Regions from separate parts of the Homo sapiens genome. Here region 2 is linked to region 1. Evidence: fine-mapped expression QTL. A gene starts in region 1. The other region holds a variant in brackets. All regions are shown on one strand. Distances are between the middles of the regions.

The links. PIP is the estimated chance that this variant, and not a neighbour inherited with it, causes the effect.
Region 2: its variant is the best candidate, but not a certain one, in a credible set for the expression of UBE2Z in lung (TOPMed, PIP 0.69).

What each region holds. Positions count from the first base shown.
Region 1 is chr17:48,907,329-48,909,828 of GRCh38, reverse strand. UBE2Z (ubiquitin conjugating enzyme E2 Z) reads right to left here and starts at 1,422. Exons shown (of 7, transcript NM_023079.5): 1 at 1,009-1,422. The coding sequence starts at 1,325. It overlaps LOC105371814 (a long non-coding RNA gene), which reads left to right and starts at 846. Exons shown (of 4, transcript NR_135674.1): 1 at 846-890. RefSeq lists silencers at 634-763, 1,034-1,283.
Region 2 is chr17:48,949,792-48,952,619 of GRCh38, reverse strand. No RefSeq gene overlaps it. Among named protein-coding and RNA genes, the nearest start is that of SNF8, 6.4 kb to the right of the region's middle. The variant T/C (reference allele first, on the strand shown) is at 1,510.

The DNA of each region.
Region 1 (2,500 bases):
CGTGGAACATGGGGAATAAGAACTAAACGAAGATGCTTGTGATGGGGGCATGGGGAGAAGTCAAACAGGTTTCAGGATTAATAGCTAAAGAGCACTGCCCTTTTCTTATGCGATAGGTACTATTCTATGTGCTTCTGGAAAACATCATCTACTAAATGATAGGATCTAAGATCAGTCACCCAAGAAATAAGCACAGAAAGGACTTAGGCCTTTGTTCCTATATTTGATGAGTATATTTGCTTCATAGAAGTAAAACAGACGACCCGGGGAGGGTGGGGGGTGGGGGGAGGGAAATTACAAGAAAGAAGCTCCTGAGTGGGATATTACAATCCAGAGTGGCACTGGGGAATTGGGGGGAGGTAGCCTGTGTTTCTGGAAGAGGCGTAAGAGTGGACAGCTTTGGGACACTGGAAAAGGGGTTCAAGGAAAGATTGGGGCGAGGGAAGCGATCTAGACCTGGGAAAAGACTGTGTGGAGGGAATCTGAGAAAAACGGAGGATAAAAAGAAAGGTTGGCTCGAGTCAGAGGCATGGCAAAGGAAGCTGAGTTCGTCTGTGTTAGGAACGGGGCTCCAGAGGAGAAGAGAGGGGACCGATGGGTGGGGCCTGCGGGCAGCATCTAGCAAGGTTGGGGTGGGGAAGGGGAAATAGGGGCGGCGCCGAAGGCGGGAGGGGGCGTTACTGAAGCGCTAAAGGGTCGGGTTTCCACCCGGAGGTGGGAGGTGTGGGGGAGGGTGGCCGGAATGGAGACGGAGGGCTCACGGGAGGTTGTCGAGGGGCGGGGTCGGATCTGGGCACACGAGGCGGGGGTTGGTGCTTGCGGGTCTGAGGGTGGGGGGAGAAGGGAGTTGGATCCCGACGCCCGGAGCTGGCAAGATTTGGGCCGTGGAGGTGGGCCGCCGCGAGGGCAGCGCAGTGGGTGGGGGGTGAGTTGTAGTGGGAGAGGGTGGGGGGCGGGGAAGGTCGAGCCCCGGAGCTCGGGGCTGGGGGAGGAAAAACCCCGGCTCACCGCTTGATCCGGAGTAGACACTGCGGCGCGGTGCGCTCGCCGTCCCAGTCGGAGCTGAGCGTGGGGTCCCAGTGGCTAAGCAGCGCGGCCCCGTGGGCAGCGGCTGAGGGCGGGAGCCCGGGCAGCGGAGCCAGGCCGCTCCCCGGGCCCCCGGCCCCGCCCGCTGCCGCCGCCGCCGCCCACACATCCGGCAGGAAAGGCGGCCCGAACCCGCCGCCGCTGCCGCTAACGCCAACAACACCAGCAACGCTGCTCGCCCCGGGGCCCGCCGCCCCGGCGCCCGCCGTTGCCGCCTCCTCAGTCGGACTCTCCGCCATCGCTGCTTCGCTTCCGGGACTACTCGGCAGCACGTCCGCCGACCAGAGCGGCCGCTGCTCCCGCCCGCTCCCGCACCACCGAGAACCGGGCCAGAGTGTCCCCACCCCCTCCGCTTCCACAGCCCAGACGGTGCTGGCTCCGCCCACCCCCGCCCCAACCAGCGAGAGGCGCTCTGCAAGAGCGTCCACCTACGGTCCTCCAGGACGGGAGGGGTGGGAACTAGCAGGCCGTGATGGTTCTGGGCTCGTGTGGGTCCTGCGCTGTGCGGAAGTAGCGGAGAGCCCAATTCAAGTGTTGAAAGGGGAGAAGAGAGGAGGGAGTGGGGGAGGAAGGGCCATATCATTCCCGTTAATGGCGGCGACCCTCAGACGTCTGCATGGTTAGGATTGGGGATCCAGCATCCTCATGGGAAGCTCAGTAGAGAAGTTGACTCGCTTTGGGCCCCTTCTCTCGGAAAGGCTCTGCGATTGATCCCTCCTGCACACTTGTGCACCTAGGGCAGGGTACCATTGCCCTTGCCTGCAACAGGACCAAGAGAGAACTCAACTTGGAATGAAAAGCTACCTCTTTTAGAGTTTATTCAACATATATTTATGAAGGGCCTACTAAATGCCAGTCACTGTTGCTAGTTGTTGCCATGGGGATAATGAAACAGAACTAGAGAAGCTTGGTGAAAGGAAGAAACATCAGGCCTCCTGACTCCAAGCTTAGTACTTTTTCTTCCCACAAATCTTGGAATATACAGGAATCGAGGTACTGTGAGTGTAAACCCTGAGGATTCTTTGGGTCTTTCCTAAAATGTTTAAAGTGAAAAATAATCTGCCAGGCTCGGTGGCTCACGCCTGTAATCCCAGCACTTTGGGAGGCCGAGGTGGGCGAATCACGAGGTTAGGAGTTCGAGACCAGCCTAACATGGTGAAACCCCGCCTCTATTAAAAATACAAAAATTAGCCGGGCGTGGTGGCGTGCACCTGTAGTCCCAGCTACTCAGGAGGCTTAGGCAGGTGGATCACTTGAACCCGGGAGGCGGAGTTTGCAGTGAGTTGAGATCACGCCACTGCACTCCAGCCTGGGCGACAGAGCCAGACTCCGTCTCAAAAAAAAAAAAAAAAATTCCTATGGACTAAGAATGACAGGGGCCTTCCTAAAAAACTGTTTTTCCTTGCCGGGCGCG
Region 2 (2,828 bases), 43 kb before region 1:
TGTCTCTATGACAATTTAAAAAAATTAACCAGGCATGGTGGCATGCATCTGTAGTCCCAGCTGCTTGAAAGGCTGAGGCCACAGGATCCCTTAAGCCCAGGAGTTCGAGGTTACAATGAGCTATGATGGCACCACCGCATTCCAGCCTGTGTGACATAGTGAGACCCTGTCTCCAAAAAAAATAAAAATAAAAATAAAAGACCATGTTCTAGCCGGGCGCAGTGTCTCGCGCCTGTAATCCCAGCACTTTGGGAGGCCGAGGCAGGTGGATCACCTGAGGTCAGGAGTTCGAGACCAGCCTAACCAACATGGAGAGACCCCATCTCTACTAAAAATGCAAAGTTAGCCGGGCGTGGGGGCGCATGACTGTGGTCCCAGCTACTCAGGAGGCTGAGGCAGGAGAATCGCTTGAACCCAGGAGGCGGAGGTTGCGGTGAGGCGAGATTGCACCATTACACTCCAGCCTGGGCAACAAAAGCGAAACTCCGTGCCCCTCCCCGCAAAAAGACCATGTTCTTAGCCACCCTGCCACGAAGCCAATGAGTCACTTAAAGCAAACGAGGGATTCCATAATGGTCAGCATTCAGTGATGTGCTGGAAGCAGGCACAGTGGCGAGTGCCTTGTCCCATCTACTTGAGAGACTGAGGCAGGAGGATCACTTAAGCCCAGTTGTTCAAAGCTGTAGTGCCCTGTGATGGCACCTGTGAATAGCCACCGTACACCATCCTGGCAACATATCAAGCCCATGATCAGAGTATTTACACCATGGAGATAGGCAAATGCTACAAATCAGGGTTCCCCTCTCCCAACCTGGCAAGGTAGTTGTTAAACCCTTACCAGGATATCACTGGTCAGCATATTTTCCCTAAAATTATAAAACGGTACAAAGGTATCTGCATAGGAGGATGAGCATGTCTGCCTGAGTGTGGCTACACTCAGCATAGCCATTGAGGTCCATTTCGTGCATCTAAGGGACTAGGCATAGCCAGGCATGGTGGCTAACGCCTGTAATCCCGCACTTTGGGAAGCCAAGGCAGGTGGATCACCTGAGGTTAGGAGTTCAAGACCAGCCTGGCCAATGTGGTAAAACCTTGTCTCTACTAAAAAGCCAAAATTAGCCGGCCATGGTTGCGAGCGCCTGTAGTCCCAGCTACTTGGGAGGTTGAGGCAGGAGAATCTCTTGAACCCAGGAGGCAGAGGTTGCAGTAAGCTGAGATCACGCCACTGCACTCCAGCCTGGGCAACAGGAGCGAAACTCGGTTTCAAAAAAAAAAAAAGTCCAGGCGCAGTGGCTCATGCTTGTAATCCCAGCACTCTGGGAGGCCGAGGCGGGCGGATCACCTGAGATCAGGAGTTCAAGACCAGCCTGACCACCATGGAGAAACCCCGTCTCTAATAAAAATACAAAAACTTGGCCAGGCTTGGTGGCACATGCCTGTAATCCCAGCTACTCCGGAGGCTGAGGTAGGAGAATAGCTTGAACCCAGGAGGCAGAAGTTGCAGTGAGC[T/C]GAGATCGCACCATTGCACTCCAGCCCAGGCAACAACAGCGAAACTCCATCACAAAAAAAAAAAAAAAAAAAAGGGACTAGGCATGTGTGTATGCATTTGAAGGCATGAATGATTAAATCTAAGGTCTTCACTGTGAGCGAGCGGATCAGTGTGTATACCTTAGGGCACTGTATAATGAGTCAAAGAGTAAGGGAGGAAGCAGGTATATCTAGATGGTGTCAGTGAGTACCTATGGGACCAAGTTTTGTGTTTGGAAGCTATGTAGTTAAGACCTCATATGATGGCTGGGGGTGGTGGCTCATGCATGGTATCTCAGCACTTTGGGAGGCCAAGGTGGGTGGATCACTTGAGGTTGGGAGTTTGAAACCAGCCTGGCCAACGTGGCGAAACCCTGTCTTTACTAAAAATACACAAATTAGCCAGGTGTGATGATGTGCGCCTGTAGTCCCAGCTACCCGGGAGGCTAAGGCAGGAGAATTGCTTGAACCCGGGAGGCAGAGGTTGCAGTGAGCTGAGATCATGCCATTGCACTCCAGCCTGGGCAACAGAGGAAGACTCTGTCTCAAAAAAAAAAACAAAAAACAAAACAAAACAAAAGGCCGGGCGCAGAGGCTCACGCCTGTAATCCTAGCGCTTTGGGAGGCCGAGGCGGGCAGATTGCCTGAGCTCAGGAGTTCCAGACCAGCCTGGGTAACATGGTAAAACCTCGTCTTTACTAAAGCACAAAATATTAGCTGGGCATGGCAGTGTGCACGGTAGTCCCAGCTACGTAGGAGGCTGAGACAGAATTGCTTGAACCCAGGAGGTGGAAGTTGCAGTGAGCCGAGATTGCGCCACTGCACTCTAGCCTGGGCAACAGAGCGAGATTCCGTCTCCAAAAAAACAAAAAAAAAATTAGATTTGGCAGCTGGGCAAGATGGCTGACGCCTGTAATCCCAGCAGTTTGGGAGGCCAAGGCGGGTGGATCACTTGAGGTTAGGAGTTCAAGACCAGCCTGGCCAACAGGGGTGAAACCCTGTCCCTACTAAAACTACAGAAATTAGTCGGGCATGGTGGCAGCTACTCGGAAGGCTGATGCAGGAGAATCGCTTAAACCCAGGAGGCAGAGATTGTAGTGAGCTGAGATTGTGCTACTGCACTCCAGCCTGGGCAACAAAGGGAAACTCCATCTAAAAAAAAAAAAAAAAAAAAAAAAGCCAGACGCGGTGGCTTATACCTGTAATCCCAGCACTTTGGGAGGCCAAGGTAGGCGGATCACCAGAGATCGGGAGTTCGAGACTAGCCTGACCAACATGGAGAAGCCCCATCTCTACTAAAA